Linked DNA regions of Homo sapiens: region 2 is linked to region 1. The links come from fine-mapping of genetic effects on gene expression. A gene starts in region 1. The other region holds a variant in brackets. All regions are shown on one strand. Distances are between the middles of the regions. Region 1 holds the start of UQCC1 (ubiquinol-cytochrome c reductase complex assembly factor 1). Region 2 overlaps ITCH (itchy E3 ubiquitin protein ligase).

The links. PIP is the estimated chance that this variant, and not a neighbour inherited with it, causes the effect.
Region 2: its variant is the best candidate, but not a certain one, in a credible set for the expression of UQCC1 in whole blood (TwinsUK, PIP 0.73).

What each region holds. Positions count from the first base shown.
Region 1 is chr20:35,409,850-35,415,229 of GRCh38, forward strand. It overlaps UQCC1 (ubiquinol-cytochrome c reductase complex assembly factor 1), which reads right to left and starts at 2,124. Exons shown (of 10, transcript NM_018244.5): 1 at 2,091-2,124. The coding sequence starts at 2,114. RefSeq lists enhancers at 1,456-2,279, 1,870-1,969, 2,030-2,179, 2,280-3,102, 2,310-2,359.
Region 2 is chr20:34,501,707-34,507,086 of GRCh38, forward strand. ITCH (itchy E3 ubiquitin protein ligase) reads left to right here. Exons shown (of 25, transcript NM_031483.7): 24 at 2,625-2,697. Among named protein-coding and RNA genes, the nearest start is that of DYNLRB1, 12 kb to the right of the region's middle. The variant T/G (reference allele first, on the strand shown) is at 2,174.

The DNA of each region.
Region 1 (5,380 bases):
GGCTGGACTGCAGTGGCACAATCTCAGCTCACTGCAACCTCCGCCTCCTGGGTTGAAGCAATTCTCGTGTCTCAGCCTCACGAGTAGCTGGGATTACAGGCGCCCACCACCAGGCCTGGCTAATTTTTGTATTTTTAGTAGAGACAGGGTTTCACCACGTTGGCCAGGCTGGTCTTGAACTCCTGGCCTCAAGTGATCCACCTACCTCAGCCTCCCAATGTGCTGGGATTACAGGTGTGAGCCACGGCACCTGGCCAGGAATACCTCTCTGTGGTTCAGTTTTCTTATCTGTAAAATAGAGGAAATAACACGCCCTCCTTTCCAAAGGGATGTTATAAGGATTAGGTAAGTATTTTAAAGTGCTTAGCACGTAGTAAGTGCCCTATAAAATGATAGTTGTCAGGCCAGGCTCGGTGGCTCATGCCTGTTATCCCAGCACTTTGGGAGGCCGCAGGAGGCGGATCATGAGGTCAGGAGTTCGAGACCAGTCTGGCCAACATGGTGAAACTCCATCTCTACTAAAAATACAAAAGTTAGCCAGGTGTGGTGGCAGGCGCCTGTAATCCCAGCTACTTGGGAGGCTGAAGCAGGAGAACTGCTTGAACCCAGGAGGCAGAGGTTGCAGTGAGCCGAGATCACACCGCTGAACTCCACCCTGGGTGACAGAGCGAGACTCCATCTCAAAAAAAAAAAAAATACAAAAATTAGTCAGGTGTGGTGTGGTGCATGCCTGTCATCCCAGCTACTCGGGAGGCTGGCACAGGAGAATTGCTTGAACCCGGGAGCAGAAGTTGCAGTGAGCCCGAGATGGCACCACTGCACTCCAGCTTCGGCGACAGAGCAAGACTCTGCCTCAAAAAAAAAAAAAAAAAAAACAAAACCCTAAAGGGTGGCAGGGGAAGGATTAAAAAAAAAAAAAAAAAAAAAACCACTAAATTCAGAACATTCTAATTGCCATTTCCCCAGCAGTCCTCATTTCTGAATCAATTTCTGGCCTGAAATCAAACAATCACTTCACCAGGTGAATCTTTCTGGCAGTTACAGGGGCTACTCTACAAATAAATATTTACTGAACAGCAGTCGAGGGTACCTCACTCTGCTAGGCTGGCAAGGAATACAAGAAGTAAAACTGTCGTCCTTGTAAGACATATATAAAAAGATCAAAAACACAAATGTAAAATAACAATTCAGAAGTTACCTAGACACAGGAATAGACCATGTCTACTATGAAAAACAGTGTCTTTGACCCAGTTTTTGAAGACTCGCTAAAACTATACACTCTCCCATCCCTCCATGATTAAAAACTAAGCTCTGTATCCTAACGTTTTTTCTGCTGCCACTTTCTTTTCTCCTTTAATTGCTAGAGAAAAGAGTATGCTAGAAGGGTCAGGACTAAATCTCAAGAGGTGCAGTAGTTTCACACACGGGTGCTAAAGAGTCTGGTAGTCTTTCCTTACTTCATTCATTTATTCAACAAGTAATCATTTAACACCTATGATGTGCCAGACACCATGCTAGGCAAAGTGAAAACGACGGAGACAGACATGACTCCAATTCTCACGCAGCTTTCAATCTAATAATCTATATTCCACTTAACTGTACAGTTAAGAACTGACTTATTACCTATGAAAGAAACCCTGAGAATCTCAGAATCTAAAGGGACTGCAGGAGATAAATGTCCTCGTTTTTCACATAGGGTCAATGAGGCCCAAAAGTGACTTGCTTAAAGTCACTATGCATCAGTGACAGTCAGGGACTAGAACCCAGGCCTCCTGAAACTCCAATCAGTGTCCTACATGCTCCTCTCCCTGAGGGGAAGCAGGTACATGGGGGAGGGAAGGAAAAGTAAACCCCATCAAATAAAGGCCAGATGTCAGTCTTCCCCTTCTCGAAAGATGGGGGAGCTAAGGTCAAAACGGGGTAGGAAGAGGTCGGAAGCTGCCTCAGTTTCCCCACGGAAAAGCGGCCACTCAGCCTAGCTATAACACAGGCTTCCCTCCTGCGATTCCTTCCAATTCCTCCCGCCCTGCCTTGTCGAACTCCAACCCGGGACCCAGAGAGCTACCGTAGAAAATTACTCCTTCACTCACAAGGACTCGCACCAGCAACGCCATGTTCCTCAATAACCATTTCCGGGTGAAGAGTGAGTTTCCGGTGTCCCCTTTTCTACGTCCTCCTTTTGCCGGCGAAAGACTGGCAAGGGGGGCGCAGGCGCAAAGAGGTCGCTACGCGCACGCGCTGTTGTTTTCTCGGCTGTGCACCAGGCTGTCGTGCCCGGGCACGCTCTCCCTGCTGTCTCCCCCACTACACGTAACAGTGGTTCAAATCCTTCCCCCACGCCTGTCTCCTTGACCCCAGACCTCGGGGCTTCTCATATCCCTCTCTTTATTCCCCACCTAACCCAGCCTCACTCCTCAGCCCCTCCTTCCCAAACTCCACCCCAACACTTTTCAATGGAGGTTGAAAAGAACAGGACTTTAGGAAATCCCAATCTTTAGAAAGAGCCAGAAGACCGGGCGCGGTGGCTCACGCCTGTAATCCCAGCACTTTGGGAGGCCGAGGCGGGCGGATCACCTGAGATCAGGAGTTCGAGACTAGCCTGGCCAACATGGCAAAACCCCGTCCCTAACTAAAAATACAAAGAAAGTAGCCGGGCATGTTGGTGTGTGCCTGTAATCCCAGCTACTCTGAAGGCAGAGGTTGCAGTGAGCCGAGATCGCGCCACTGCACTCCAGCCTGGGCGACAGAGCAGGACTGGACTCTGTCTCAAAAAAAAAAAAAAAAAAAAAAAAAAAAAAGCCAGAGAAGGAGGCTAAGATAAAAGAATACGGGGGATACCAGACTCCTGAAAGTCAAGGCAAGAAGGCGGTCATGTGCCGATCTGAAGCCTGGTAGAGGAAGAAACTTTTGGGATTTGTGGTTGGTTGGTTGTTTAAGGGAAACATCTTTGCATATTGATAGGAAAAGATTAGTGAAGAGTATACAGGGCCGTGCCCGGTGGCTCATGCCTGTAATCCCAACACTTTGGGAGGCCGAGGCAGGTGGATTGCCTGAGGTCAGGAGTTCAAGACCAGCCTGACCAATATGGTGAAACCCCGTCTCTACTGAAAATACGAAAAAAATTAGCCGGGCATGGTGGCGTGTGCCTGTAATCCCAGCTACTTGGGAGGCTGAGGCAGGGAATCGCTTGAACCCGGGAGGCAGAGGTTGCAGTGAGCTGAGACTGGGGCACTGAACTCCAGCCTGGGTGACAAAGCGAGACTCCGTCTCAAAAAAAAAAAAAAAAAAAGAGTATACAGGAGAATCAATCAAAGAGGCAAGGAGCTTCTTGAGGAAAGTGGCAGAGAACGGCCTTGGTAGAAGACTCCTCTTCCATTACATCCCAAGAGAAGAGAAGACAAAGTACTGGTGCTTTGGGGGTTGAGGGAGCAGAGGGGCAGGATGTTGAAGGACTTCTTTCATTTCATTCAGTCAACAAAGACCTATTGAGTCTTCCCTATGTGCTGAACACAAGACATACTGGCTTCATGGAGTTCTTAGACTGGTGGGGGAGGCATAGGAACCCAGTGAAAAAAATTAAAACTGGGGAGCTACTTTGGTTAGGTTGGTAAGGCCTCTCCAAGAAAGTGACATGTAAGATGAAATCTAAAGGAAGAAGAGGAGCTAGTCATGGGAAATAACTTCACTCGACTATTTTTTTAATTAAATTTATTGATTTTTATTAATTGACAAAAAATATATATTGTGTACAACAGGATGTTTTCTTTTTTCTTTTTTTTTTTTTTTTTGAGACAGAGTTTCACTCTTGTCGCCCAGGCTGGAGTGCAGTGGCTCAATCTCGGCTCACTGCAACCTCCACCTCCCAAGTCAAGCGATTCTCCTGCCTCAGACTCCCAAGTAGCTGGGATTACAGATGCGCACCACCACGCCTGGCTAATTTTTGTGTTTTCAGTAGAGACGGGGTTTTGCCATTTCGGCTAGGACGGTCTCAAACTCCTAACCTCAGGTGATCCACCCACATCGGCCTCCGAAAGTGCTGGGATTACAAGAGTGAGCCACCGTGCCCCCGGCCAGGATGTTTTAAAATATGTATACATTGTGAAATGGCTAAGTCAAGCTAATTAATATATGCATTACCTCATATTTTTGTGCTGGAAATGTTTAAAATATGTTCTTTAAGCAATTTTCAAGAATACAATACATATTCATAGTGGGTATAGTCACCATGTTATACAATAGATCTTTTCTTTTTTTTTTTGAGACGGAGTTTCACTCTTGTTGCCCAGGCTGGAGCGCAATGGCGTGATCTTGGCTCACTGCAACCTCTGCCTCCCGGGTTCAAGTGATTCTCCTGCCTCAGCCTCCTGAGTAGCTGGGATTACAGGCATGCGCCACCACGCCCAGCTAATATTATATTTTAGTAGAGACGGGGTTTCTCCATGTTGGTCAGGCTGGTCTCGAACTCCCGACCTCAGGTGATCCGCCTGCCTTGGCCTCCCAAAGTGGCCTCCTGAACTTATCTCTCTTAACTGAAATTTTGTATCCTTTGACAAACATCTCCTCAGCCTCTAGTAACCACCATTCTACTCTCTACTTCTGTGTGTTCAACTTATATTCCACATATGAGAGAAATCAAGCAGTGTTTGTCTTTCTGTGCCTCATTTATTTCTCTTAACATAACATCCTCCCAGTTCATCCATGTTGTCATAGATATGAGCATTTCCTTCTTTTTTTTTTCCTTGAGACAGAGTCTTGCTCTTGTTGCCCAGGCTGGAGTGCAGTGGCACAATCTTGGCTCACTGCAACCTCTCCCTCCCGGGTTCAAGCAATTCTCCTGCCTCAGCCTCCCAAGTAGCCTGGACTACAGGCATGTGCCACCACACCCAGCTAATTTTTATTTTTAGTAGAGATGGGGTTTCTCCATGTTGGTCAGGCTGGTCTTGAGCTCCCGACCTCAGGTGATCTGCCCACCTTGGCTTCCCAAAGTGTTGGGATTACAGGTGTGAGCCACCGCACCTGGCCAGCATTTCCTTCTTCTTTTAGGCTGAATAGCATTCCATTATATATATAAATCACTTTTTTTTTTTTTTGAGACAGAGTCTTGCTCTGCCGCCCAGGGTGGAGTGCAGTGACACAATCCCAGCTCACTGCAGCCTGTACCTCCTGGGTTCAAGCAATTCTTGTGCCTCAGTCTCCCAAGTAGCTGGGACTACAGGCACGTGCCACCATGTCCGGCTAATTTTTGTATTTTTAGTAGAGACAGGGTTTCACCATGCTGGCCAGGCTGGTCTCGAACTCCTGGCCTCAAGTCATCTGCCCACCTCTGCCTCCCAAAGTACTGGGATTACAGGCATGAGTCACTGTACCTGGTCATAAACCA
Region 2 (5,380 bases), 910 kb before region 1:
AGAGGTTGCAGTGAGCCAAGATCGTACCATTGCACTCCAGCCTGGGCAACAAGAGCGAAACTCCATCTCTCAAAAAAAAAAAAAAAAAGACAAGTAGTACTGGAAAATAAAAGAACAGATGAGAAAGATAAATAATAGACTTAAGTATATGTGATAACAAAAGGAGGGAAGTAACCTAAATAAAGTATGAATAATACACCTGCAAAAATAAATTATAGATGGTCAAGGTGGAGAAAAATGAGGTAGATCTTAAAAGCATAGTATCAGAATATATCTCCTGTCATGAAATTCTACTATAGGCCAAGGCTCTAACATGTAAAAAAGCCTCGGAGACCATAACATTTGAAAGGTGGCTGAAAATAGGAACATAGGTACAAAAGTCTACACAGAAGTTGTATGGTTTAGGGACAGTGTCAGAGTTTTTAATATTTGATTTTAAATCTATTAAAAGCAATTCAGAATCCTTTCTGTTACATACTAATGTGCATTATTAAATGAAACTCCTTTCCATCTATGTAGTTAAATATGCTGCTAGGTATGGTGGGCACACATCTGTAGTCCCAGTTATTTGGAGGCTGAGGCAGGAGAATTGCTGGAGCCCAAGATTTCAAGCCTGTAGTGCACTATAACTGCTTCTGTGAACAGCCACTGCACTTAAGCATGGGCAACATAGTGATACCCTGTGTCTTAAAAAAAAAAAAAATTTATAAAAAATGAAATGTGACCAGGTACAGTGACTCACACCTGTAATCCCAGCACTTTGGGAGGCCGAGACGGTTGGGTCACTTGAGGTCAGGAGTTCAAGACCAGCCTGGCCAACATAGTGAAACCCCATCTCTACTAAAAATACAAAATTAGCCGGGTGTGGTAGTGGGCACCTGTAATCCCAGCTACTCGGGAGGCTGAGGCAGGAGAATCACTTGAACCTGGGAGGCGGAGGTTGTGGTGAGCCAAGATTGCTCCACTGCACTCCAGCCTGGGAGACTCCGCCTCAAAAAAAAAAAGAAAATGCTATAAAATATTGAGTAGAGGGTGGACATGATGGCTCATGCCTGTAATCCCAACACTTTGGGAGGCCAAGGTGGGTTGATCACTTGAGGCCAGGAGTTCAAGACCAGCCTGGCCAACATGGTAAAACCCCATCTTTACTAAAAATACAAAAATTAGTTGGGTGTGGTGGTGCACATCTGTAATCACAGCTACTCTAAGGCATGAGAATTGCTTGAACCCAGGAGGCGGAGGTTGCATTGAGCCAAGATTGTGCCACTGCCATCCAGCCAGGGTGACAGAGTGAGACTCTGTCTCAAAAAATATATATATTGAGTAGAGAGAACATGCAGAGTGAGTTAATTTTAATTTATGTGTTGAACACCACAGAATAATTTTAACTGTGTTTTTTTATAACGTTTCCTATATTACTGGACTTTTTACATAACTACTTGTGAAAACAATTCAGTGTTATTAAATACAAAAGCACTAACAATTTATATTGGGTATACTTAGTATACAGGGTTTAGTCAGGTGGGACATGAGAAAGTTCTTTGTGTCTGACAGTGTCACACATTACAGAACAGTTAGCGTTCCTGCCCCCTTCTAATTAAAATATCTAGTAGCATTACCAGTCATTGAGACCAACAATAAATGCTTCCTAGGGAAAAGTAATGATCTTTTAAAAAACTGGTGTTTTTATGATCACTTTTCACAGCTATCTCCAGCAGCAGGTAAATGAGGGGCAAGTATTTTATGTTTATACTTGTATCTGTTTTTGTAAGGGTATGCCCTACAGGACCTGTAAGTTCCAGCATTAATAATATGGAATTCACTAGGATATTTACATTTCACAAAGTTTTATTAATTCTGTATTTAAATCAAGTTTTATTGTAGTTTCGTTATTGTCTTTCAAACTACTAAAATTAAGCTTTTTGTGTGTTCTTGTGTAAGCTTTTATTAATCATAACAATGTGTTATTCCGGCTAAAGAATGCTAGATGAAACTGCATTTTCTCCTTTGGGACTTATATTAACAAACTATAGTCTTCAAACTTTTACACTTACCAGAATCACCCGGAAGCTTGTTAAAGCACATATTGCTGAGCCTGACCCCTAGAGTTTCTTTTTTGTTTGTTGGTTGCTTTTGGGTTTTTTGGGTTTTTTTTTTTTTTTGGTTTTTTTTT[T/G]TTTGGTTTTTTTTTTTTTTGAGATAGGGTCTCGTTCTGTCACCCGGGCGAGAGTGTAGTGGCGCAATCTTGAGTCACTGCAACTTTGCTGCACAGATTCAAGCAATTCTCCTGCCTCAGTCTCCTGAGTAGCTGGGATTACAGGCATACGCCACCACACTTGGCTAGTTTTTGTATTTTTAGTAGAGATCAAGATTCACCATATTGGCCAGGCTGATCTTGAACTCCTGACCTCAAGTGAGCTGCCCACCTTTGCCTCTCAAAGTACTGGGATAACAGACATGAGCCACCACACCTAACCCAGAGTTTCTGAATTAGTAAGATGATGTGTGGGGCCTGAGGATTTATGGTTCTAACAAGTTCCCTCATGATGCTGATGCTTGTTGGATTGGGGAACACAGTTTGAGATCCACTATACTAACAAACTGTTTATGATTTCATTATGTTTTAGGGAGCAATGGACCACAGAAATTCTGCATTGAAAAAGTTGGGAAAGAAAATTGGCTACCCAGAAGTCATACCTGGTAAGTACAATCAGAATGGATAGAGAAAACAGCTTTTGTCCAGTTATCTGTAGCTATTTAAAGCCAGCTAGAAATTAAAAATGATATTTAGTAGATTTACAGAATAGCACAGCCATCATAGCAATCCAGTTTAAGAGCATTTTGTTCACCCCTGTATGATTCCTTACAACTATTTGCAATCAATTCCTTTTTTCACATCTGAATTTTTTTTCTAATGTGGGATTTAGAGTTATTTTAACTTTTCTCTGAGGGCAGCAAAAGAAAGTTAGGAGACCTACTTTCTAACATCATGACCACAAATATTCTCATTTGAAATCTAATTACATTTCTAAAAATGTAGAAAACTAAATCTAATCCTAATCTGACAGCAAATATATTAATATTTTGGAATTCAACCTAATGTCAACAATATTTGAACCTTATTTTGTGGGATATATTTTAGTGGTCACATATGGTCCTTCCTGGATATCTGACCTCTTTACTGTTTTACTAATGTCTATTCCTTTTTGTTTTTATACATAATGTTTTGTACATGCATGTAGTGTTTAAGTAACAATTTTATTGATATATAATTTACAGATTATAAAACTCACCTTCTTAAATTATGCAGTTCGGTTCAGTGGGGTTTTTTTGTTTGTTTGTTTGTTTGTTTGTTTTTGAGACAGGGTCTCACTTTGTAGACCAGGCTGGAGTGCAGTGGTTTGATCTCAGCTCACTGCAACCTCCGCCTCCCAGGTTCAAGCAATTCTCTTGCCTCAGCCTCCCAAGCAGCTGGGATTACAGGCGCCCGTGACCACGCCCAGCTAATTTTTGTATTTTTAGTACAGATGGGGTTTCGCCATGTTGGTCAGGCCGGTCTCAAACTCCTGATCTCAGGTGATCCACCCACCTCGGCCTCCCAAAGTGTTGGGATTACAGGTGTGAGCTGCCGCATCTGGCCTGTTCAGTGATTTTAGCATATTTATGAGGTTATGTAAGCATCATTACTGTCTAATTCCAGAATTTTTTCACCCTCCCAAAAATCCATGTACCCATTAGCAGTCACTCCCTTTTTACCCCGTGTAGCCCTTGGTAACCACTAATCTACTTTCTGTCTCTATGAATTTTCCTGTTCTGGACATTTCATATAAAATGAATCATACGATAAATATATAACTTTTTTTTTTTTGGAGACAGTCTCTCTCTGTCACCCAGGCTGGAGTGCAGTGGCGTGATCTCAGCTCATTGCAACCTCTGCCTCCTGGGTTCAAGTGATTCTCCTGCCTCAGCCTCCCGAGTAGCTGGGACTATAGGCAGCATGCACCACCACGCATGGCTAATTTTTGTATTTTTAGTAGAGACGGGGTTTCACCATGTTCGCCAGGCTGTTCTTGAACTCCTGACCTCGTGATCCACCCACTTTGGCCTCCCAAAGTCCTGGGATTACAGGCGTGAGCCACTGCCCCCAGCCAAAATATACAACCTTTTGTGTGTAGCTTCTTTTACTTAGCATGTTTTCAAGGTTCATCCATGGTCTAGCATATACAGTATTTCATTCCTTTTTAAAATTAATTGTTGGGTTTAATATACATAACATAGAATTTACCATTTTTAAGTGTGTACAGTTCAGTGGCATTAAGTGCATTCATATCATTATGCAGTCATCACCATCACCTATCTCCAAAAATTGTTTCTTTTGTTGAGACATGTCTCAGTCTGTCACCCAGGCTGGAGTGCTGTAGCTCAATCTCCACTCATGCACCCTCCACCTCCCGGGCTCAAACTGTCCTCCTACCTTAGCCTCCCAAGTAGCTGGGACGACAGGCATGTGCTACCACACCTGGCCAATTTCTAAACTTTTTGTAGAGACAGAGTCTTACTTTGTTGCTCAGGCTGGTCTCGACCTCTTGAGCTCAAGCAATACTCCTGCTTTGACCTCCCAAAGTGCTGGAATTACAGGCCATCATGCCAGACCTAAAACATTTTTCATCTTGTAAAATTGAAATGGTACCCATTAAAGCAGGGGTCCCCAACTCCTGGTCCCCAGCCTGTTAGGAACTGGGCTGCACAGCAGGAGGTAAGTGGAGGGTGAATGAGCATTACCTGCTGAGCTCCACCACTTGTCAGATCAGCAGAGGCATTAGATTCTCATAGGAGCAATAACTATTGTGAACTGTGCATGTGAGGGATCTAGATTGTGCATTCCTTACGAGAATCTAACCTGAGGTGGAACAGTTTCATCCTGAAACCATCCCCCTCTCCACTCCTGTCCATGGAAAAATTGTCTTCCACAAAACCATTGCCTGGTGCCAAAAAGGCTGGAGACTGCTGCTTTAAACAATGACTCCCCATGACTCCCTTTCCCCAGGTCCTGGCAAACATCATTCTACTACTGTTTCTATGATTCTTTAGTACTTCGTAAGTGTAGAATCGTACCTTATTTGTCCTTTCCTGGCTGGCTTATTTCACTTAGAATAATATCTTTAATTTTCATCCATGTTGTAGCATGTGTCAGCATTTCCTCCTTTTTAATGCTGAATAATATTTGATAGTCTGGATATACTACATTTTGTTTATACATTCATCTGTCCATGGACACTTAGATTATTTCCACCTTTTGGCTGTTTATGCTGCTATAAACATAGGTATACTGTGGTAGAATATAGATATATCTGTCCATGGCCCTGCTTTCAGTTGTTTTGGG